Homo sapiens: one gene and its partners. The protein of the gene in region 7 purifies or fractionates together with the protein of the main gene of each other region. This does not show direct contact. Each region holds a gene or a part of one and is shown on either strand. Other genes may lie near its edges.

Region 1 (3,500 bases), on a different chromosome or scaffold from region 7:
TGGCCAAGAAATCCAAGTAAAATCTATCCTTGATGTAAAAGTAAAACATAAATGTAATTTAAAAGTATGAACGATAAAAGCTGGAACAGTATAAGGAGCACAGCTTAGAGAAGGGATAAAAATATTAGTATCTTCCTCTTACACAATAGGGGGTAAAGGGATTGTGGAATAATAAATATTAAAAGCAATGACATGACTACATGGAGGGAGAAAGTGCCCATGTGAACATCTGATACATATAAAAATATAAATATTTATATCAAGATATAGATTGTGGTATACTTTGAAACTAATGGGAAATACAGCTAGAAGAGTTTTAATAATTGCCTCTGGAGAGTAGGAATAATGATGCGTAATAGTGTGACAGGAGACAGTTGCTTTCATTGACAAGTTTTTCAAAACTATTTGATTTCCAAACTTGTTTATGTATTAACTTTATTTACTCATTAAAAACCAAAACAACAGTAAGTATCTTTGACAATAACTCTTGCTTACCAAAAAAATAAGCCAATTTTGGTATCTCCTTCAAAAACAAGGACTCCTGTTGGTGTTAGTCCCAAACTATAGTCATTCCCATCTCTAGCCTAATTTAAGGGGAGAAAAATGTGTTAGCTTTATTTGTACAAAACAGGTTTCACATTGACACAACTTTTAAATTTTATTTTTGTATTGAATTGTATTAATTATATACAGGCTAATATTAATATATGAGATGTTTTCAACAATTAGAGTATCCATAATAATATTCTCAGAAAAATTTATGCATATATTTTTATTTCTAGTCATTGAAACACTAGAGTTTTAAAGTGTATCTTCATTGAAAGTGGGTAGTTACACTCCCACTACAAACAAAGCTGTTTCCACATTCTTCCCATATTATACTTACCACTTAAATCATGTATTTTGGAAAAGACTGCTGATACGGTTTGGCTCTATGTCTACACCCAAATCTTGTGTCATATTGTAATCCCCAGTATTGGAGGAGGGGCCTGGTGGGAGGTGACTGAATCATGGAGACGGACTTCCCCCTTGCTGTTCTCATGATAGTGAATGAGTTCTCACAAGATCTGGTTGTCTGAAAGTGTGTAGCACCTCCCTCTTTGCTCTCTCTCCCTCCTGCCAGCCATGTACAGATGTGCCTGTTTGCCCTTCACGTTGCCCAATGATTATAAGTTTCCTGAGGCCTCCTGAGAGGGAGAAGCCTGTACAGCCTGCAAAACCATGAGCCAATTGAACCTCTTTATAAATTTATGTCTTTATAGCAGTGCGAGAATGAACTAATACAACCGCCTTTCTGGAAAAATGTTACTAGTTAAACTAGAAATAACTTAAATCACTACAAAGCTGTTCTAAAGTTTATCAAAGTCTTTAAGCTATAAATCTTCAACTTTGCATCCTGAATTATTTTAACAGAGCCTACTCAGTGTAAGTCGTATAACAGGAAGTAAAAAGGATAACAAATGGCTCAAAAGCTTAAAACAATTTTTTATAGCAAAAAAATAAAATAAAATAAAATAACAGCTTAAAAGGACCAAGTACCTTGTTAGGGATGTTGGTTGCTTCTCTTCTTTCTTATAATGAACCTTTCTGTGAGATTCTAGTCATTTGGTATTTAATCTCAAACTTTTTAACCATACATCCAAAGTACCCAGTGCTAGCTTATGCAAACTCCATGCCCTCCCTCATACTGAAAAATTCCACAGTCACTGCGAACCTCCAAAGAATAAATTTTTAAAAAAGCATCACAACACAATGCTTACCTTGACCACATGCATATCAACCCCATACATTTCTAGCCATTTGGCTTTATTCAGATAATTGGTTTCAGCCTGTGCTGGTGTTTGACCTCTGAAATTTAAAACAATGATTTTTAAAGTAACAATAAATATAAAATAAATTCTATACCAAGGATAGAAACAGAAGAAAATGAATATGAAATAACTGTTGTGGTGATTTTAAAGAAAGTATGGTCAAACGCCAGATACCTGTATTCCTTCCATTTCTCAAAAATAGCCAGTTCCATCTCTTCAGTCTGAATAGGCACGAATCTGAACTCTGAGACAAGTTCAGGACTATGCTCAGCAAGATCATAGTCACCAAGTTCAGCTATAAACATAAGTTTCAAAAGTTATATGTATTTCCTGCTAAATCCTTCAAAAACCATTTCATTAATGAAAACTGCTAAGATTAGAAAGATTCTTAGGAATTTCTTACAAAAATTCATAATACTCAGACAAGTCTCCAAAAGTAAATCTGGCATATTAGTCATACACATATATCTCATATTTATTTTTGGTAGTGTATTTTTAATTACATATCTTTCTCTTAATGTATTCACACTTCAGTGCTTACTTAACCTTTGAAAACTGCTTTCTAGACTTCCATAAAGAAATACCTCTGACCTTATAGTGAATAAATGAAAAAATTTAGCAATCGTTAAAAGACAATTAACTGGCATCTATTAAGAATATTACTAAGGCTGGGTGTGGTGGTTCATGCTTATAGTCACAGTACTTTGGGAGGGCTGAGGTGGAAGATGGTTTCAGGCCAGTCTAGGCAACATAGCAAGACCTCGTCTCTAAAAAAAAAAAAAAAAAAAAAAAAAAGTACAAAAATTAGCCAGGCCTAATGGCCTGTAGACCCAGCTACTCAGGCAGGAAGATCGTTTGAGCCCAGTAGTTCAAGGCTTCAGAGAGCTACAATCATGCAACTGCCCTCTAGCCTGGGGACAAGAGTGAGACCCTGTCTCAAAAAAAAACAAAACAAAAGAATATACTGATATACACTGAATATGACCCCATATACCAATCTAAATATAGTCCCTGTCTTCCAAAATTTTAAAATTATTAATCCTAAAGAAATAACTGAAAGGAACTAAAAAAAATCGGGGGGAGAAAGCAGCAGGGAAAAATCTGAACAATGCACAAACATGTATGTACTCATCTGTGGTTATTTCTGAACAAAATGTAGGTTTGGAGCAAAAGGACTGCTAAGCTATATGGCTTCACCAACAATTCACTCCTACATAACTGCATTTCTTTTAAGGAAAAAGTTAGCCGAAGGCCCAATCTTAGCATTTACAGACTTATCAGGTAGAGTATGACGTTTCAACACTTTAGGTGGAAAGGGCGCAATTACATGAAAGAGAAGAAAAAGAAGGCAATGTTCTAAAACAAGTAAAAGTCAGAGTTGGACCCTGATACAAGTTTATACAAAAACAGTGTTGTTTCTTTTCTTGCACATAATTAGAATCTTCTTTAACTAAAAACACACACAAAAAAGATTATACTTGAGTCTTAACAGTCAACATAAGAATTGCTTACCTTGCAGATTATAAGCTGCCAATTGCACTGCTGTATCAAAGGGACAGTCTAATCTGAGACCAAAACACAAGTTTGTTAGACAAGTTGATTTCATAACCTTCATTTTAAGACAAATGAAAATAATACATGTTTTATGTTGACCATTTCTTTTTTACAACTATAAACTTATTTTCAAAA
Region 2 (2,995 bases), on a different chromosome or scaffold from region 7:
ACTTGGAGGAAAAAGAGTCGGCTGCCTTCTCTGTGCTCAAGGGAGTGTCCACAATAGGCATTTTAGAGCTCCAGACCACCCAAGGACCACATCAAAGCTTAAAGTTCACCACAGTGAGCACGCTGGGACCTGGTGTAATCTTTCAAGTGCCAGCAGAAGGGAGGCTGGAGAAATGCAAAGGCCTGCTGGCCTGGAGATACCATTCATCCTCTCCTCAAGAGTAGAAGCCAGTTCTTGTAAAGAAACTAAAGTCCCTAGGTGGGAACATCATCAGCTGAGACAGCCTCCCCATCATCTCCTGAGAAGGATAAAAACTAAGGGCTCATAACCCCAAGGGATTGTGGCCTGCACTGTGTGTCTGCTCCTTAGCATTCTGGGCCCTCCTTGCAGGGTGAGGACAAAGGGGACCCGAGGCCATCACCAAAGGGTGGTTCTCAGGGTCCTGCTGTCACCCATTAAAGGCTGGTTCTAAGGAACAGTGTGACAAGTACAGCAAAGGCTAACAGTACACAGATTGTGACATTTTATATTCTTTGTTAAATGGTTCCTGGTACATGTTTTAAGTGCCTCTGCTTCTAGTTTAAATGAATGACCCAGACAGAGCTTTCAAGCTGTTTCTTAGAGAATGTGTGGTTGAGCAGAAATGGCTATCCACACCTGACACAGGTCCCCACCCACCTCACACCCTGGAGGCAGCAGCATAAGCCCCAGTTTCCACTATGGTGTCTCCTCAATGACCAGAATACCCGCCAGTTCCAGGGGTCAGCAATTCCATTCTCTCTCTCCGGCTCAGTTCAGAAGCTGTGATGGTCCTGTTAGAGAGCACTGCCTGCAGGTCAAAACCTGGAAGAGGCTCTCCCAGGCCAGGCGACAACCCTTCAGGTGCAGACGGGGAACAAAAGGCTTAACCTGTGATAATCCCAACACCTTCTGAAAAAAGAGTAACAGTCATCCAGCAACGGGCCATGGGTAGGGGCGGGCGGTAGCAGGGGACACTGTCCCCTGCCTCAGCATGTCCTGTCCAGAGGGTGGGCACAGATATAGGCTCGCTTCTCAAGGATCTGCTGGGACACTTTCTTAATCTGCTCATCTAGGTTTTCTGGAGCATCTGGGAAGGAAAAGGAGAGATGGTGGGTGATCTTTCTGCACCGTGATAAGACAAACATGGCTGAAGTGGGGGCATTTTTCCACAAAGTCAGCCCACCCACCATGAAGCAGCCCTAAGGGTGAACCCCTCCTCCAGACCCCCAGCAAGTGATTCAGGGCTGCAGGGAGAGAAAGGGGTACAGCTTCATTCTCAGTTACAAAGGACTCATCCTGCTCATCTCTAACCCCCAGATCTCATGGGGTGGAGCCGGCACTTGCTCCGTAAACAGCCCATCTGTGATTCCAGCCCACTGGAGGAGAAACCATTTCAGCACCCTCCACAGCACATAACCTGTCAGCACTGGGGGGGTGTCTGGGCTACCCCCAGGGCTAGGACCTGCAAAAAATCATATGCCACTCTCAGCAAGTGCCACAGTGCTGGCGCCTACACCCATCACTTGGCAACACGACTGGGCTTTGTGGGGACACTGATCCAGAACCTCAGGTCAACAGGACTGTGAGGGTCAGAGGTAGACTGAGCTGGGCATTCCTAGATATGGTCGAGTGGCTATAGAAGAGGAAGAGCACTGCAGACAGAGCGGGGAGCACGAGCAAAGCCCTCTGTTCTCTAGGCCAAGGCCTGAGACCTCTGCAGGGCACTGCAGGGTCATTTTGGATGGAGTACAGTGGGTAAAGGGGCAGGTAAAATGCTGTCTCCAGAATCAGGTACAACCAGATGCTCCTCCCTTCGTGAGCCTTCCCCGGGCAGCTTCAAGAATACAGCCAGGGCTGGGCACAGTGGCTCATGCCTGTAATCCCAGCACTTTGGGAGGCCAAGGTGGGCGGATCACCTGAGGTCAGGGGTTGGAGACCAGCTTGGCCAACATGGTGAAACCCTGTTTGTTTCTACTAAAAATACAAATATTAGCTGGGCATGGTGGTGCGTGCCTATAATCCCAACTACTCAGGAGGCTGAGGCACAGGAGTTGCTTGAACCCAGGAGGTGGAGGTTGCAGTGAGCCAAGATCATGCCACTGCACTCCAGCCAGCCTGGGTGACAAAGTGAGACTATGTCTCCAAAAAAAAGAGAATACAGCCAGGCATGCTGGGCAGATGCCAGGGGTCCTGCGCAAAGGGCTCTGCACTTGCTCAATCTAAAATTGCCTTGGCAGGCCCGGTGCGGTGGCTCATGCCTGTAATCCCAGCATTTTTGGAGGCTGAGGCAGGCAGATCACCTGAGGTCAGGAGTTGGAGACCAGCCTGGCTAACATGGTGAAACCCTGTTTCTACTAAAAATACAAAAAATTAGCCGGGCGTGGTGGCGTGCGCCTGTAATCCCAGCTACTCGGGAGGCTGGGGCAGAAGAATCGCTTGAACCCAAGAGGTGGAGTTTGCAGGGAGCCAAGACTGCGCCATTACACTCCAGCTTGGGCAACAAGAGCGAAACTCCATCTCGAAATAAATACATACATACATACATACACACACACACATATATACATACAACTGCCTTGGTGAATGGGGCAGGTATGCACCTACAGTGCCTGGTGGGCACTGCTGCAGCTAAGCCCAGGCCTACCCAGGCCCTCGCTCAAGGCAGAGGTCTGTGAGTAGCTAGCAGGCTCTGGGAGCTTGACAGGGTCCAGAAACAGCTCACCATCAATAGGGGCCTAGAAGTGGGCCCTTCCTTCCCTCCCCCAAGACATGCCACTCACACTTGTCCAGCTGAGAGAGGCTGAAGAGATTCTGCAAGTAAGCTTCCACGCAGAAGGTGTTGGCCAAGAGAACCTGCCAGAACCGAGGACAGAAAAGATATGCCCAAATTCCTGGAATCAGACCTCTGAGCTTCAAAAACCCAGCCTATCAGCCAAACTGGGTAGCATGGCAGGGGTCACAAGGCCTGGCACAG
Region 3 (3,500 bases), on a different chromosome or scaffold from region 7:
GTAATTGACATTGTTCACAGAACTAGAGACAACTATTTTAAAATCCAAATGGAAACAAAAAAGAATCCAAATAGCCAAGGCAATCCTAAGAAAAAAGAATGAAGCTGGAGGTATCACATTACCTGATTTCAAACTATACTACAAGGCTACAGTAACCAAAACCGCATGGTACTGGTACAAAAACAGACACACAGACCAATGGAACAGAATAGAGACTCCAGAAATAAGGCCTAACACCTACAACCATATCATCTTCAACAAACCTGACAAAAACAAGCAATGGGGAAAGGAGTCCTTATTCAATAAATGGTGCTGGGATAACTGGCTAGCCACAGGCCGAAGATTGAAACTGGAGCCTTCCTTATACCATAAACAAAAATTAACTCAAGATGGATTAAAGACTTACATGTAAAATCCAAAAGTATAAAAACCATGGAAGACAACCTAAGTAATACCATTCAGGACAGAGACACGGGAAAAGATTTCATGACAAAAACAACAAAAGCAACTGCAACAAAAGTAAAAATTGACAAATGAGGTCTAATTAAACTAAAGAACTTCTGCATAGCAAAAGAAACTGTCAACAGAGTAAGCAGACAACCTATAGAATGGGAGAAAATTTTTGCAAATTATGCGTCCAACAAAGCTCTAATAATATCCAGCATCTATAAGGAACTTAAACAAATTTACAAGAAAAAAAAACATAAAGTGGACAAAGTATATGAAAAAAACACTTTTCCAAAGAAGACATACATGCAGCCAACAAGCACACAAAAAAAAAAATGCTCAACATCACTAATCATTAGAGAAATGCAAATCAAAATCACAACAAAACACCACCTAACACCAGTCAGAATGGCTAGTATTAAAAAGTCAAAAAATAACAGATGCTGGTGAGGTTATGAAGAAAAAGGAACACTTATATGCACTGTTGGTGGGAGTGTAAATTAGTTCAACTACTGTGGAGAGCAGTGTGGCAATTCCTCAAAGAATGAAAAACAGAATTACCATTTGACCCAGCAATCCTATTACTGGGTATGTACCCCAAGGAATATAAATCATTCTATTATAAAGACACATGCATGCGTATGTTCATTGCAGTACCATTCACAATAGCAAACACATGGAATCAACCTAAATGCCTATCAATGACAGACTAGATAAAGAAAATGTGGTACAAATATATCATGGAATACTATGCAGCCATAAAAAAGAACAAAATCACGTCCTTTGCAGTGACATGGCTGGAGCTGGAGGCCATTATCCTTAGCAAATTAACACAGGAACAGAAAACTAAGTACTACATGTTCTCACTTACAAGTAGGAGCTAAATGATGAGAACACATAGACACATACAAGGAAACAACACACACTGGGGCCTATCAGAGGGTGGAAGGTGGAAGAAGGGAGAGGATCAGAAAAAATAACTAATGGCTACTAGGCTTAATACCTGGGTGATAAAATAATTTGTACAACAAACCTCCATGACATAAGTTTACCTATGTAACAAACCTGCACATGTACTCCTGAACTTAAAATAAAAGTTACAAGGCCAGGCGTGGTGGCTCAGGCCTGTAATCCCAGCACTTTGGAAGGCCGAGGTGGGCGGATCACCTGAGGTCAGGAGTTCGAGACTAGCCTGGCCAACATGGCGAAACCCTATCTCTACTAAAAATACAAAAATTAGCCAGGTGTGGTGGTGTGCGCCTGTAATCCCAGCTACTTGGGAGGCTGAGGCAGGAGAATCGCTTGAACCTGGGAGGCAGAGGTGGCAGTGAGCCAAGATTGTGCCACTGCATTCCAACCTGGGTGACAGAGCACAACTCCATCGCAAAAAAATAAAAAATAAAAAATAAACAAATAAAATAAAAGTTACAGAGATGATAAAATGCATTACTACTAGCAGACAAAACAAATTGGACTTCAAATAAATGAACATAATATAACCTACTCAAAAAGGTCAGTTCATCAATTGAAAAGCTTAAACATGAAATATTTTTCTCATTGTAAAAACAAGTACAGTATATCAAACTATGTCTGTGTATCCATAATAGCAAATTAAATTTTTTTTGTTTGTTTTTTAGCATCCCAAACCCCCCCCCAACCCCCGAGGTAACCACTTTTACCAGACTGGAGTATATCTTTCCAATTTTCTATGTATTTGCATATACATACACACACATACAAACACATACACACATTGTTATGGTCTGAACTGTGTACTCCCCACCCCCACAAATTTATATGTTGAAGTCCTAACCTCTAATACTTCAGAATGTGACTATATTTGGAAACAGGGCCCTTAAAGAGGTAATTAAAGTTCAATGAGGTCATTAAGGTGGGCCTTAATCCAATATGACCAGTATACTTCTAAGAAGAGGATATCAGGACACAGACACAAACAGTGGAAAAGACAGTGTGAAGACAGAGGTATAAGATGGCCATCTACATGCCAAGGAGAGAGACCTCAGAAGAAATCAACTCTACTGACACCTTCATCTTGGACTTCATGGGTTCCAGAACTGTGAGAAAATACATTTCTGTTGTATAAGCCACCCAATCTGTGGTGTTATGGCAAACGTAGCAGGCAAGCACACATGTACATGCACAGTTATTAAGTCACTACAGTCAGAGTAGTTGAAGAAAGAGTTCATACTTAGCAAACATTCATGCACTCAAAAATATGAATATATTACAATATTATAGTATAAGTTACTCAAGATCAGTAAAAACAATTTTATAAGTAAACCAAAATCGAAGCTTCACCTTGTCTTTTTCTAATATGCTTTGAAAAGCAGAAGTTTAAAAGTTGCTCTCCCAAAACATCAGCACCTAAGGAACTATACCCTTAGGATGCGGTTTCCCTACTTTAATATCCATCCCTCTCTAGATATTGTAAAGAAAACTTAATCAGAGGACTAATGAACATCCCAAAATACAGTGTGCAGTTAAAATTTCTACAAACAGCAAATTTTTATATCTTATTCCTCAAAGAATGTTATCCTGTAAGTCACTTTATCTTAGCAAATGATGCTCACAAATAAAGTAACTCAAAAATTTTAGGATAAAAAGTAAGTGTGCTTTGGTTATTGAACTAAAACTGACAACAATCAGTGATGCTACTCCACCACGGTACCATATGCCTAATGACAGAAATGCAACGGACAAACTTATGAGGTTGCCCTGAAGAAAGTTAGCTTTCAATTCCAAATGTATAGCAGTGGAGCAAATATTATTAATTATTATGTTAGATTTTTGCTTTGGTTTGGTTATAGAGTTTAATCATTCATTTTACATATATTTTCTGATTACCTATTACATGTAACATACCGTGCCTAGCTCTGTGGAAGATAAAAACAAAAAGATGATTGGAATATATTAGCATTTTAGGCACATAAAATCTTATCTCCTCCACAAGATACATAACTACTTGTAGGAAAAAGTGTTGTAGGAGTTCAGAGGAGGGAGAAATCAAAGTCTTATTAGCTTATAAGGAATGG
Region 4 (3,500 bases), on a different chromosome or scaffold from region 7:
AAAAAAAAAAGACCTCATCATTTGCTCTACACAGCTTCCCAAGGATAATATTAACACCAGGCAAGCAGAGTTATTCCCAATAAGGACACAGATAATAACACTCTGCGATCCTCAGCAATACAGCTCTTAAAAGGCAAAAGCAGTCTCAGAAACGTTGTTAACTCAGAAGTAACAAGGATTTATGTTCTGCAAATGATTAAGCTATGGCAGATTGCAAGCACAGTGTTTCTCTCTTGTCAGTTTTAACACAAAGTGATGTTCTATCATTTTATGTGGTTCAAGTCACCTTGTATATTTCTTTTAAGCCCATAACTACTATTAAGCCATGTGACTGGTATCCGTTTTATTTTATTCTGGAACAAAACCAAGCTGAATTCCTTTCCATTACAAAACCAGAGCATCATGACCAAAATCACAACCTACTCACATATTTTCTATTTGCCCCATAGAAAAATGACCACTGAGAGGCAGATAATACACATAGAAGATTTCATCATGAGTTACCTCAAACGTAAGCTTATTCTTCTCTTTATCAGAGAAAGGGAACCTCTGACAAACCACATCTCTTAAATACTCCTCCACAAACTCCATGGTCTGAGCAAATCTCTCCTTAATTTCATCTTTGGAAGCTCCACTACTATCATAGCTGAAAAGAAAGGAGAAAGAAAGGAAACAAAATTTCAAGTTATTCCCAGAGAGGTCTTCCTGGGTCACTCAGCTTCAAAAGTCAACATCCCCTAACCCTTGGCATCCCTTGACCCTACTTTATTTTTTCCCTCCTTAGCATATATCACCAACTATATATTTGAGTCGTTTATCTTGCCTATTGTCTGTCTTCCACCAACTAGCATAGAGATTGCTTTCTAGTTTGTTCACTGATATATTTCTTGAGCTTGGCACATAGTACACACTTAAATATTTGCAGAATGAAAGAGGAGATAAATGAGATATAAAAAATACAATCGGGGCCAGGCGCGGTGGCTCACGCCTGTAATCCCAGCACTTTGGGAGGCCGAGGTGGACGGCTCACAAGGTCAGGAGATCGAGACCGTCCTAGCTAACACGGTGAAACCCCGTCCCTACTAAAAATACAAAAAATTAGCCGGGCGTGGTGGTGGGCGTCTGTAGTCCCAGCTACTTGGGAGGCTGAGGAAGGAGAATGGCACGAACCCGGGAGGCAGAGCTTGTAGTGAGCCGAGATTGCGCCACTGCAGTTCAGCCTGGGCAACAGAGTGAGACTCCATCTCAAACAAACAAACAAACAAACAAAAACCAAAAACATAATCATGCCATCTTTCACATTCTTGAGGAAAAAAATATTTGCCATCCACTTAATTTTATTTTAAGCTTGAAGAAAAAACCAACACTTCATCTTTCTTCTAAGATTTAATGAGACCATATGGGGCTATCTACTGCCGCACAGAATAATGTAAAGTGAGGTTTTCAGGTGCCAGGCTCACTCGTCAATGGCGATCTCCGAGGGAATCTCCGACCAGAGGCGGGCATATTTCACGGGGGTGACTTGTTCCTGGGGATCTCGGTCCACATGCATGTGAAGCATGAGGCGGCAGAAGGACGCCCTGAGGTCATAGGGCAGGTTCTCGTCAGACATGCAGCGGAGAATGAGATCGACATCCAGCTGGCCTGAGATTTCGTTGATGGCCAGGTATTGGCGGTCCAGACACATCCTCGCAAAGAGGTTCAGCTGATATCTAGAGGAAGGAACAAGGGCACACAGCTCACGCTCCAGAAATCATTCAGGATGAATGAAGGGTCGTCTGGGCAGCCCTGACTGTCATGGGAGTGACATTTGGCCAACTAAACTCATACATCAACACCCCTAAATTGCTCTTGTATACCAGGATTTTGGCTTTGGTACCAAGCAGATAAAAGAACTATTCAAGCTGTGCAGTAGAGTGTGGGTTGACAGCCAACAGGAACACATGTCTATCCAGCTGTGTTGGAGCAATTATGTGACGACCTAATTCCACTAGGTCCTTAATGTTTACTTTTTAAAATAAACGGGGGGAATGCTAAGGCCTAAGATGGTTGTCTATTTCTTTCCCTTCAGCTGTGTTTTATACAGTAAAGACCATGTAGGAAATGTTCAAGATATCACACATATTCAGCCTAATTAGAAATTTTATAACATTTTAAAGATCTTATATCATGTAAGTCACTCTAATTCCTACACGTGTAAAAAAACATTTCATTTACAAAAGTAGGAGACTCCTCACTTTTCATCTTCATCCAATTGCAAGTGAATGTTGTTAACTGGAACCTGACCAATTAAGGCACTCTTTCTCATTCACTTGGGAGAAGATTCATCAAACACTGAAAGAGTAAACATACTTGAAATGTGAAATAACGAGAAAGCCACAGGCTTTCAAAATACTGCCTTCTGAATTAAAAACTCTATGTATTTCTAATAATCATGATTTGAAGACATTCTCAGCCTCATTAGATGTCGGGGAAATGCAAGTGTAGACATGAGTCTATTTCACACTTATAAAATTACCAAAAATTAAAAAGCATCATGATATTCAAGGTTAACAAAGACATGAAGAAACAAAGCTTGTCGTCTACAACTGGTGGGTGTGTACACTGACACATCCAATTTAGAATTGCTTAGTAAAGCTTAAAATATGAATATCCTCCAAGCCCACCTCCCAGTGTGGAATGGAAATTCATACATATACTCAGAAAAATTTGAATGAAGATGTTTCCTGACATGAAGAACTGCAGCATGTGATCAAATATCAAACAGCGATGAAAATGTGATAAATCAATAAAACAGAATATCATCCAACAGTCCAAATTACAGAAATGGATTAATCTCTATTAACGCAGATATATTCAATATGGCTTCAGTACCCGTATTGAATAAATAAGGCAAGTTTTAGAATGGTATTTGGAGTACAGTCCCATTTATATAAAATTTTAAGTAGAGATAAAATACTACATATGATTTACAGATGCATACAAATGCAGCACACAGAGAATGTGGATAGGATGCGTACATCACACATGAATGAAAGAACAGAATACAGGAGGCAAGAAAAGGCATTTTATCTGCAGTTTTATTTATTTTATTAAAAAATAATAAAAGCCTTGCTTTATCTTCCCTTTCCTTTTCTTTTAAAAGTATTAATTGGTTCACTTCCTTTCTTTCTTCCCCTTCCCTTCCCTTCAGGTGGCAGGACTGGCAGGTCTTACAGCTGGAGCCAAGGAGACACTGGGGACCGTGGAGGTGGGTGGCAGAGGTGAGACAGGTACACACAGGGAAACGGGCAGATGGGTAAACATACAGGGAATCGTGGCAGCTGGAGGGAGTCATGAAATGGAAAAGGTGAAGGCTAGAATAAATCCTATGGTGTTGGAATGGAATTGGAAGTATTAGTGTAAGTACATGCTTTTTATTATATATTTGTGTAGTTATAGAAAGATACATGGATGAATGTGTAGATATATGTGTATACAAACACACACATCTTCTGTCT
Region 5 (3,500 bases), on a different chromosome or scaffold from region 7:
GGTTGCAGCGAGCTGAGATTGCGCCAGTGCACTCCAGCCTGGGCAACAGAGCCAGACTCTGTCTCGAAAAACAAAAAAAACCCAAAAAACCAAAAAGCACCTCCCAAGGGCCAAGGTGAGAAAAGCCTCACAGGGACAATGCCAGGTCCCAGGTGAGGGGCTGTGTCAGAGGAGGACTTGGTGGCCAGGGGTTTGTGCAGGGAGCTCATCCTAACTCACTGGCCGCTTCTACCGTGCTCTGCGCATACTTGGTGTTCAGAAAAGGGATGACCTTGCCAAGCTGTGGGCCTTCCAGAGGCCCGGATGCCTGACTGGGAGGGTGTGGGGAGGGGGAGGGAGTGGGGACAAGGACGTATGAACAGCAGCCATGGGTTATCAGTGGGGATCCACAACCATCTATCAGGCAGTCATGTGACAGGGGTCCGGAGCTGGAGGGACACAGCTGAGGTTAGGAGGAGAGTGGCCATCTTCCCAAGCCCCTAGTCTCCTAACGGCAAATGTCTGCTTGCTCACCGTGGGTGCCATGAAAGGCAGGAACGCTGGCAGGAAGAGAAGAGAGGAGGTGTCAGTGATCACAGTTGCCCAGGCAGAGGGGGCCAGAAGGGGACTACCCACCTGAACACCTCTTCCCCAGCTTCCAGAAGGCACAGACCTCAAAGGACTTTTTCCACTCATTCTTTGTTTTTCTAATAAAGTGGGGGGTCAAGGTCTCAGCACTTTGGTAGGCTGAGGCTGGAGGATGGGTTGAGGCCAGGAGTTCGAGACCAGCCTCTATTTTGTAGAGGTAGCGAGACCCCCACCTCCATAAAAAATTTAAAGCCAGGTGTGGCGGCATGACCCTGTAGTCCCAGCTACTCAGGAGGCTGAGGTAGAAGGATCAGCTGAGCCTGGGAGTTGGAGGCTGCTTTGAGCTATTATGGTGCTACTGTACTCCAGCCTGGGTAACAGAGCGAGACCCTGTCTCTAAAAATGACAATAATAATAAAGTATGTACATAAAATTACTATAACATGGCCAGGCACAGTGGCTCACGCCTGTAATTCCAGCACTTTGGGAGGCCAAGTGGGCGGATCAGAAGGTCAGGAGTTCGAGACCAGCCTGGCCAACATAGTGAAACCCTGTCTCTACTAAAAATACACAAAGGAAAAAAATTAGCTGGGCATGGTGGCAGGCACCTGTAATCCCAGCTACTCAGGAGGCTGAGGCAGGAGAAATCACTTGAACCTGGGAGGCGGAGGTTGTAGTGAGCCGAGATTGTGCCACTGAACTCCAGCCTAGGTGACAGAGCAAGACACTGTTTCAAAAAAAAAAAAAAAGAAAGAAATCCTGCTGGGGGAGAAATAATTAAAGCAAGGCAGGCAGAGTTTTCTTTTCTTTTTTTTTTTTTTTTTGGACACGGAGTTTCACTCTTGTTGCCCAGGCTGGAGCGCAATGGCATGATCTCAGCTCACTGCAACCTCCGGCTCCCGGGTTCAAGTTCAAGCAATTCTCCTGCCTCAGCCTCCTGAGTAACTGGGACTACAGGCACGTGCCACCACAATGCCCAACTAATTTTTTACATTTTTAGTAGAGACGGGGTTTCACCATGTTGGCCAGGCTGGTCTCGAACTCCTGACCCCAGGTGATCCGGCAGGCAGAGTTTTCTAAGTGTTAGAAACTACATCTTCCCAACCCACTTCTGAAAATTAGAACCAACTCACCTGCAGGTCGAAAAAGCTTGGGGATCAGGTTGCTGCTGTCGGGATGCACTGTTGCCTTCAAAAGGAGAGATGCAAGGTTAGCTGGATGTCTGGTTTTGTTATTATAGGACACTAAAAATTAGGAAGGGGCTGAAACTTACAAGACTCCGCTTCCAAGCTTCTTGTATCTTAAAGGAGAAAAAAGAATAGCTTTGTTTCATTTTAAATTTTTTTTAAGAGACAAGGTCTTGCTCTGTCACCCAGGGCTGGGGTATAGTGGCACAATCATCACTCACTGCAGAACAGCCTCGAACTACTGGGTTCAAACGATCCTCCCACCTCACCCTCCTGAATAGCTGAAACTACAGGCTCACGCCACCATTCCCAACTAGTTGTTTAATTTTTAGTAGAGATGGGGTCTTGCTATACGGCCCAGGCTGGTCTTGCAGTCTTGGCATCAAGTCATCCTCCCAAACCATTGGAATTACAGGGTTAAGCCATCACACCCAGCCTTAAAAAAACAACAACAACAACAAAAAAAAACAAAAAAAAAAAAAAAGCTTTTAAAGGTGGCTCAACAGCAAAGAATTTCTTTGCCTGTCTCATTTCTGGGACCACATTTGTTCTACCTTTCAGAGAGTGAAGGCCAGAGCTGTTATTTACCACATTGACAGAACAAATCAAAATAAATGGATCATATGAATAAACAAATGAACTAATGACAAGCAAAGAGACGAGCCACACAGAGAAATGGACCAGAACATTAAAAAGTCCTGTCTCTACCCTTGGAGAATACCAACACCTAACTTATCCCTCAGATGAGTCCCCGAATCCGGCTTGCCTCTGGCTCAGAGCAGAGCAGGCTGTGTGCTGATGACACACCATGCCATCAGTCAAGTTACTTGCAACAGAGCCAAGCTGTCAGCCCAGGGTCCCCAGCACATTCTTAGAAAAAGTTAAATATGTGAGCTCTCCATAGGCTGTCTTGAGGAGCTGGTGTTTGTGAGCTCCAGAAAGCCCCACATACTGCAAGGTAGATAAGGAACAGTCCGTTTGAGCCTATCGGCAGGAACGCTGCCTGCAGTGGAGAATGAATTCTGACGTCAGAGCCCTGTCTGAATTCTGGGGTTTGCCACTGGGCTCCAGGAATCAGCTGCAGGGAATCCCCACAAATATCCACTGTGTAGGAGGAAACTTGCTGTCTGGTTTATGGGACAGAATTCTAACTACATTTAAAAAACTAACCCAGTTTTGCAAAGCTGGTCCTCTGGGCAGTATATAACAATGACAGCATTAATAGCCAATAGAACAGTGGCTCCCAAGGGAAGGAAAAAAGAAAGAAAAGAGACGGAGACAGAGATTAATGGCCAAATTCCACCTGACTTCAGACCATGCAGGCAGAACCATCTGAGGGCAACCAGCCAGACCTGAGCACGTGAAACATACCCTTTGGTCCGCCGAGGCAGGGCTGGAAACATCTTCATTTGTGCACAATAGTTGCCTCGAGTTTTCTATACTTTCCTAAAATCAGATATCAAGTAATCAAGTAATGATCTCAACATTGTTCAGGTTTATCCCCAGAGGTAGGAATCACCAGCTCACTCACCAGCATGCACTGGACTTCGACTGCATGCCTGATTTCAAGCCACATGGTGCCCTAGGCTCTCTATCCATTAGGATAGCCCTGAGTGCCATTCAGATTTATGCCTTCCTCTTCCTAGATGCTCCAGCAGCTGCCCCCAATGGTGCTGTCACCTCCCCCACTCTCTGATGTCAACTGTCGCACTGAATGGTTACCACCATCCCCTGGCTATACATGTC
Region 6 (3,500 bases), on a different chromosome or scaffold from region 7:
TCAGCCTCCAAAGTGCTAGGATTACAGGCGTGAGCCACCACACCCGGCTGAGACCTCATCTTAAAAAAGAAAAAAAAGAAAAAGAAAAACCCAGCAGGACTTGTGGATAACAGCAAGATGAATCTAAAATATGCACAAAAGGCAATGCAACTAAAATACCCAAAAAACAATTCTGAAAAATAATAAGATAACTCACACTACCTGATTTTAAAACTTACTCTAAGGTGACAGTAATCAACAGTGAGGTGATAGAGAAATGAAAGACACAGATCAATGGAATAGGAGAGAGAATCCAGAAACAAAACCACACATTTATGATCAACTTGCAAAAAAAAAAAGGCACAAAGGTAATCAACAGAGAAAGGACAGTCTTTTCAAAAACTGTTGCTGGAAAAATTGTAAATCCATCCACAAAAAAATAAACTCAATGCATACCTTGCACCATTTAGGAAAATTAAATCAAAGCAGATAATAAATGTAAATATAAAATTTTAAATGATAAAACTTCTAGGCGAGCCGGGCACAATAGCTCACGCCTGTAATCCCAGCACTTTGGGAGGCTGCGGTGGGTGGCTCACTTGAGGTCAGGAGTTCAGACCACCCTGGTCAACATGGTGAAACCCCATCACTAGTAAAAATACAAAAATTAGGCATGGTGGTGGGTGCCTGTAATCCCAGCTACTCAGGAGGCTGAGGCAGGAGAATCACTTGAACCCGGGAGGCGGAGATTCCAGTGAACAAGATCTCACTCACGCCAGCCTGGATGACAGAGTGAGACTCCATCTCTAAAAAAAAAAATAATAACTTGTAGGAGGAAATATAGGGGAAAGTCTTTGAGCTCTTAAGTTAGGCAAAGATTTCTAAACTATTATACCAAAAGCATGATCCACTCAGGGAAAAAACAAAAAAACAAAAAAACACTGGATATCATAAAAATTAAGAACTTCTGCTCTTCAAAAGACATTATTAAGACAAGAAGGCCAGACACAGTGGCTCGCGCCTGTAATCCCAGCACTTTGGGAGGCCGAGGCAGGCAGATCACTTGAGGTTAGGAGTTCAAGATCAGCCTGGCCAACATGGAAAAGCCCCATCTCTACTAAAATACAAAAATTAGCTGGGTGTGGTGGTGTGTGCCTGTAATCCCAGCTACTCGGGAGGTTAAGGCAGGAGAATCACTTGAACCCAGGAGGCAGACGTTGCAGTGAGCCAAGATCTCACCACTGTACTCCAGCCTAGGTGACAGAGCCAAACTCCATCTCGAAACAAACAAACAAAAAAAGACATTATTAAGACAAGTAAAAACAGACTAGGAGAAAATATCTGCAAATCATGTATTTGATTCCAAAGTATATACAAAAACTCATTTTTTAAGCAAAAGATTTTGAATTGACATCAAAGAATGACAAATAATCAGATGAAAAGATACTTAATATCATTAGTCATTGGGCAAATGAATAAAAAGGCTACATTCCGTGTGATTCCATTTTTACAACATTCTTGAAAAGGCAAAAAACCATGGAGACAGAAAACAGATCAGCAATTTCCAGAGTCTGGGGGTAGAGAACCGGTTGAGTACAAAAGGGCTCAGAAGAATTCTGGAGGATGAAGGGACTGTCCTGTTTGCAGCAGTGGATATATGAATGTATACACCTGTCAAAACTCAGAGAATGTTACACTAAAATGGCGGAATTTTAGTGAATGTAAACTATACATATGAATAATTAAAGAATGAAAAAATAGAGACTAAAGAGACATAATGATGTGCTGAGTGAACTTTAATTTTACTCTGTCCAAAATTTTTCTTAATCAACTATAAAAGATATTTGGGAGACAAATAGAGAAAGTTGAATAGGTATTGAATAATATTATAGAATTAACGTTAATCTTTCTTGTTGTGAATAACTGCAGTTGGTTATGTAGAAAAAGGGTCAGCAAACTTCTGTAAAAGCCCAGATAGTAAATATTTTCTGCTTTGCAGATCACATGGTCTCTGTTGTAACTACTCAACTCTGCTACTATAGCACCAAAGTAGCCAGAGAAGAGCTTACAGAGTGACATAAATGGTCAAAAACCTCACACGTTTTCCTTCTCTCCCATACTAGCACCCATATCATACAAACACACTGATATCCACATTCCCCAGGCACTGAACACAGCATTGCCCCACACAAATGTTCATACAATCACGGTATTTCAGTACCAGGTCCATCCTTACAGCAAGGTCTGACAAAAACACATTATCCATTCATCTTCTATTCATAACGTCACAATCAACTTGTAGGTGGACGAGAAAACTATAAATATGAGGACAAACGCAGGAAACAAACTTTCTTCCACTGACCAGTGAGGACAGATGCATGAAACAAACCTTTTTTTTTTTTTTTTTCAGACGGAGTCTCGCTCTGTCGCCCAGACTGGAGCACAGTGGCATGATCTCGGCTCATTGCAACCTCCACCTCCCGGGTTCAAGCGATTCTCCTGCCTCAGCCTCCCAAGTAGCTGGGATTACAGGCACCTGCCACCCTGCCGGGCTAGTTTTTGTATTTTTAGTAGAGATGTGGTTTCACCATGTTGGCCAGGCTGGTCTTGAACTCCTGACCTCAAGTGATCCGCCCGCCTCAGCCTCCCAAAGTGCTGGGATTACAGGCGTGAGCCACTGCGCCAGGCTATGAAACAAACTTTCTTCCACCCACAGCTTTCTCGTCTCTCCCCATTTACAGCAGTAAGACAGCCTAACCTGGGAAAGAGAGAGGGAAGCTACTTCCAAATGGATGCCTGTCCCCATCAGTAATAACCAAGTCTATTCAAGTGCCAGATGTTAACTTTAAAAGAAGGGAACATCAAAAGTCCAACTTTCTTCGCCTAGCTTTGTCAGGAATGTTTTTACCCTCAATCTGTAAGTGTGACCAACTGTAATTTTTAAAGGTTTATCCTCAATCTGTAAGTTTGATCAAATATAATTTTTAAAGGTTTACTATAATCTCTTCATCAGAAAACTAATGGAAAGATGGAATAAAATCTAAAGAAATGTCCTTAACAGGTAAATATTTCTAGAATGTATCTACTCCATCTAGGTAGTGTAAGTATTCTAAACTATGCTAGTATAACTGATTTAAATCACTGCCTTCTTCTGTAAATGGTGTCACCTTTAAAGTGTTATCTTGAAGAGGAAGTGAGTGATTTGCTCATGTCTCTGTACTGAACTAACACTGTTAACACCCAGTCCAGCTCTACCTTAAACAAGTTTGAGAAATACAGACACAATCCACACTTATTTGCCAAGACTAAGGTAAAATAAAGTTGGAACTCATATCCTCTTATGACTGATGTACTGAAAACAATCCATCTCTCACTGTTGCCCAAATAGCATAGTCACAAAGAGCTCTACCCTACCAAGCCACTCTGCAAGTCCCACTCTCAAAGGAAGACTCACAGGTGACTGAGAAGATAAACTCGCTATTGTTTCCATTATCCTTCAGTTCATCTGGCACCTTTGAAGA
Region 7 (3,500 bases):
AGGAAGAGAACGAGGGCCATGAGCGGGGCGTCCGGGTGATGAGGGGCACTGCCCAGGTGCATGAACCAACAGCTGTCCAGCAAGGGAACGCCTGGCACGGACCTGCTGGGTGCAGCGAGGACCCACCTCTGTGCCTTGGTGTGATCGTCCCTGAGCGGGAAGAGCTGCTCCTCCACCTTGTCCCAGCGCTCCAGGCAGCTCCACAGCCAGTCAGGGTTGACCACGTGCAGGTGTCCGCACTCCTGTGCCTGCAGCACCTTCTCTGTGCCTGCAGGAGACCCGGCTGCGTCAGGCTGTTCCGGCCAGCACTGGAGGCTCAGGGCCCACATCCGGCTGCACCCACCAGGGCCCTCACCTGGCTGTACCCCACCAGGGCTCAGGGCCCTCACTCGGCTGCATCCCACCAGGGCCTTCACCTGACTGCACCCCTGCAGGGCTCAGGGCCCTCACCCAGCTGTACCCCACCAGGGCCCTCACCCGGCTGCACCCCACCAAGGCCCTCACTCGGCTGCACCTCTCCAGGACTCAGGGCCTTCACCCAGCTGTACCCCACCAGGGCTCAGGGCCCTCACTCGGCTGCACCCCACCAGGGCCCCCACCCGGCTACACCCCACCAGGGCCCAGGGCCCTCACCTGGCAGTACCCACCAGGACTCAGGGCCTTCACCCAGCTGTACCCCACCAGGGCTCAGGGCCCTCACTCGGCTGCAGCCCACCAGGGCTCAGGGCCCTCACCCGGCTGTACCCACCAGGACTCAGGGCCTTTACCCAGCTGTACCCCACTAGGGCTCAGGGCCCTCACTCGGCTGCACCCCACCAGGGCCCTCACCCGGCTGCACCCCACCAGGGCTGCCCACTGCAGGTTCCCATCTGCCAGGCCAGGGATAGGCAGCCATGGTGGGAAGGGGTGGATCTCAGACGGGGAGCCGGGCACAGCGGGTGACCTGAGCAGCAGGAGGACCTCTCTTAGCATGTGTTCAGCAAAGCCTCTCAACAGTGAGGCCACGTACACAGAAGCAAAAAGGAAACGTGAGCACAATTCAGGGGGAAGGAAGGAATGCGAGAGAAGGGCCAGGAGCTTGGGCACTCACAGGACAGGGCAGGCGGGCACCTGAGGGGCCAAGGAGGACCCTGGCCTGGCCCAGCTCCATGCTCAGGAGAGAAGGGTCAGGAGCTGGGCAGACACGCGGCAGGGCAGACAGGCACCTGAGGGGCCAAGGAGGACCCCGGCCTGGCCCGGCTCCACGCTCAGGAGAGAAGGGTCTGACTGCCCACAGGAGGCCAGGGCTTGGCTTTCTCCTGGGATCAAGGGTCTCGCTGGGCTCCACGGAAAGCCCGCCTCTGCCCTGCAGCTAGCACCTGGCTATTTCACACTGAGATGGAACCTTCCATTTACCCTTGATTCAAATGCTTTACTGAGCACATGCGTGTCCAACGCCCCATGATACGTGCCAGAGCCGTGGCCTCAAATAAGACCACACCTGCTGTCAGGGAGCGTGCGTGGACAGGGATGAGCTCACCCCACAAGGCTTTCCTGAGCCCCGGAGGCGGGGCCACGCACTGAGAAGCCCTCTCAGGAAACGCCGCCAGGACAGGAAGCAGATTGGAGGAGAAAAACCGCAATCTTCATTCGCGGAAAATCCAGGTGCTTATGGGAGCATTTTCACAGAATAACTAGAATAACGAGGTATTTGGGTTTTTTAAGCACCGGGGTGTTAAGTCTTCCTTCAAGAATCACCTATTGCTGAAAGGTTGTTTTATTCGGCGGAAGTTTCAACATGTCAGAGCAGCCTGCCCCGTCCGGGACAGGTTTCACCGTCGGGAGACAGCAGGCCTGTCCTCCGCCCTCCCAGCCACAACGTGTCCTTCTGTGCACGTTTCAGCTGAAACCTTGCATTTAGTTTTCTAACTCAGAGGGTTTGTCAATCTTTTACCTGCGAACTCCTGTTCCTGCCTCGAATTTCTCCACTACGTCCCTATCGCTGATTCCCTGTTTTCCAACCCGGCCATGGCTTACTCCAGGGAGAAGGTTGAACTTTCTACACACGAGTAACTCCCACCCCTGAATGGTGTGTGCGATGACTGCGGTCTGAAAGCATGAACGTGCCCAAACTCCAATTTCACCCACTGTCATGATCTATTCTTAAAAGATGGTGATTCTGGGAAATGTTTCTGAAAATTGAAAGTGAGATAAACAGCAATGCCAACTCTAAGGAGTGCCTGCAAGGAGCCCGCGGGCCTGACCATGCCCAGGGCACAGGGAGGCAGCACTCACCAGCTCGCGCGGCGATCAGGTGCGTGGCCCTGTCAGGGGCGTCGGGGCTCAGCACCAGCCGAGTGAGGATCTTCGCTCCCAGCGCCGTGGCGTGGTAATGCTCCCGCGTCTTCTCTATCGGGAAGTTTGTCGGGTGTAGCCCACTGAAAATTATGGCCACGTCTGCCAGCACCTTGCTCTTGAGCTCCGGCACGATCTTGCGGATGTCCGGCGCCTCCTCGATCTCCTTGTTGAGGTAGCGGTCATACTTGGCATAGTAGTCAGTGTGTACACGGACCAGGATCTCCTCCAGGTAGATGAGGTGGTCATCCTCATCCGTGTCCTCCTCCTCCTCCTCCTCCATGCTCTGGTCCAGGGACTCACCCGCAGTGACCCCCGACAGCTCGCTGTTCTGTGACTCGGTCTCCGCCTCCTTCCTGTCGGCACAGCCGTTGCCCAGGCCGCAGAGGCCATCCCGCTCGCCCTCCTCCTGCCCACCCAGCTCAGGCTCCTTGTCCGGGGCATGCGCGCCAGGCTCGGCCTCTCCGGGGAGACTCGGTGCTGCAGGCCGCCCCGGCTCCAGGGAACTGCCCTGTGCCAGCGCCCCGGCTCCCTCTGGGGCAGCCTTCGGCTTCTGCCGGCCTCTTTTCCCCTCGCTTTCGCCATCAGAGGCGGAGGAGGAGGACTTCGTGCCCTCGGACTCACTGCTGCTCTCGCTGTCGCTGGATAAGTCAAAGTCCAGGTCAGTGCCCGTGGCACCCTGGGCAGGCCGCTGTCCCGGTGCCACCCGGCCACCCTGCGCACAGGATCCCTGGGGCTCAGGAGCGCCTGCCAGCTCTTGGCTGCTGGTGGGGGCCTGGGCAGGGGGCCAGATGTCCCTCTCGTCTGGCTTCCCGGGGCGGGGTGAGTCCCGCGGGGTGGCGGCCTCGCTGCCGTTCAGCTCCCGTGCAGGCTTCTCCAGGCCATTGCTGGGCTCCACTCCAGGGGCCTGCGTTACCCCCTCAGGGTCTCTCACGGGCGGAGATGGCTCTGAGACCTCAGTGCCTCGAGAATGATTTACTAAATATGCATGCAAAAGGAAAAGTTACCGCAATTTAGCATTAAACATTAAATAACGTTCCAAGTTAAAGCAGCACCCTTCTCCATGGCTGTGAAGTCCACCACCCTCTAGACCAGGCCTTGGCAACCTTGCTGTGAAGAGGCCGGACAGGGTGAGCACCCCTTACCTGAAGTGCGTGGGACCAGGG

Evidence for each region.
Region 1: the proteins of CTDP1 (region 7) and EPB41L5 purify together in Homo sapiens (affinity purification with mass spectrometry; one large-scale study listed by BioGRID and IntAct). This does not show direct contact.
Region 2: the proteins of CTDP1 (region 7) and ACAD9 purify together in Homo sapiens (affinity purification with mass spectrometry; one large-scale study listed by BioGRID and IntAct). This does not show direct contact.
Region 3: the proteins of CTDP1 (region 7) and ABCB7 purify together in Homo sapiens (affinity purification with mass spectrometry; one large-scale study listed by BioGRID and IntAct). This does not show direct contact.
Region 4: the proteins of CTDP1 (region 7) and ITPR1 purify together in Homo sapiens (affinity purification with mass spectrometry; one large-scale study listed by BioGRID and IntAct). This does not show direct contact.
Region 5: the proteins of CTDP1 (region 7) and SFXN4 purify together in Homo sapiens (affinity purification with mass spectrometry; one large-scale study listed by BioGRID and IntAct). This does not show direct contact.
Region 6: the proteins of CTDP1 (region 7) and AKAP13 purify together in Homo sapiens (affinity purification with mass spectrometry; one large-scale study listed by BioGRID and IntAct). This does not show direct contact.

What each region holds. Positions count from the first base shown.
Region 1 is NC_000002.12:120,075,577-120,079,076, reverse strand, and holds part of EPB41L5 (band 4.1-like protein 5), read right to left. Parts: intron 3,377-3,500; coding exon 3,324-3,376; intron 2,107-3,323; coding exon 1,986-2,106; intron 1,849-1,985; coding exon 1,761-1,848; intron 585-1,760; coding exon 496-584; intron 1-495. UniProt on the Homo sapiens protein: Plays a role in the formation and organization of tight junctions during the establishment of polarity in epithelial cells.
Region 2 is NC_000003.12:128,910,620-128,913,614, reverse strand, and holds the end of ACAD9 (complex I assembly factor ACAD9, mitochondrial), read right to left. Parts: intron 2,875-2,995; coding exon 2,802-2,874; intron 1,109-2,801; coding exon 1,008-1,108; 3' UTR 501-1,007; downstream 1-500. UniProt on the Homo sapiens protein: As part of the MCIA complex, primarily participates in the assembly of the mitochondrial complex I and therefore plays a role in oxidative phosphorylation.
Region 3 is NC_000023.11:75,146,284-75,149,783, forward strand, and holds part of ABCB7 (iron-sulfur clusters transporter ABCB7, mitochondrial), read right to left. Parts: intron 1-3,500. UniProt on the Homo sapiens protein: Exports glutathione-coordinated iron-sulfur clusters such as [2Fe-2S]-(GS)4 cluster from the mitochondria to the cytosol in an ATP-dependent manner allowing the assembly of the cytosolic iron-sulfur (Fe/S) cluster-containing proteins and participates in iron homeostasis.
Region 4 is NC_000003.12:4,671,348-4,674,847, reverse strand, and holds part of ITPR1 (inositol 1,4,5-trisphosphate-gated calcium channel ITPR1), read right to left. Parts: intron 1,713-3,500; coding exon 1,461-1,712; intron 647-1,460; coding exon 505-646; intron 1-504. UniProt on the Homo sapiens protein: Inositol 1,4,5-trisphosphate-gated calcium channel that, upon inositol 1,4,5-trisphosphate binding, mediates calcium release from the endoplasmic reticulum (ER).
Region 5 is NC_000010.11:119,159,215-119,162,714, forward strand, and holds part of SFXN4 (sideroflexin-4), read right to left. Parts: intron 3,201-3,500; coding exon 3,126-3,200; intron 1,868-3,125; coding exon 1,841-1,867; exon of another isoform or gene 1,756-1,840; coding exon 1,701-1,755; intron 540-1,700; coding exon 514-539; intron 1-513. UniProt on the Homo sapiens protein: Mitochondrial amino-acid transporter. Does not act as a serine transporter: not able to mediate transport of serine into mitochondria.
Region 6 is NC_000015.10:85,383,603-85,387,102, reverse strand, and holds part of AKAP13 (A-kinase anchor protein 13), read right to left. Parts: intron 3,428-3,500; exon of another isoform or gene 3,368-3,427; intron 3,041-3,367; exon of another isoform or gene 2,993-3,040; intron 2,897-2,992; exon of another isoform or gene 2,706-2,896; intron 1-2,705. UniProt on the Homo sapiens protein: Scaffold protein that plays an important role in assembling signaling complexes downstream of several types of G protein-coupled receptors.
Region 7 is NC_000018.10:79,714,303-79,717,802, reverse strand, and holds part of CTDP1 (RNA polymerase II subunit A C-terminal domain phosphatase), read right to left. Parts: intron 3,313-3,500; coding exon 2,275-3,312; intron 269-2,274; coding exon 127-268; intron 1-126. UniProt on the Homo sapiens protein: Processively dephosphorylates 'Ser-2' and 'Ser-5' of the heptad repeats YSPTSPS in the C-terminal domain of the largest RNA polymerase II subunit. This promotes the activity of RNA polymerase II.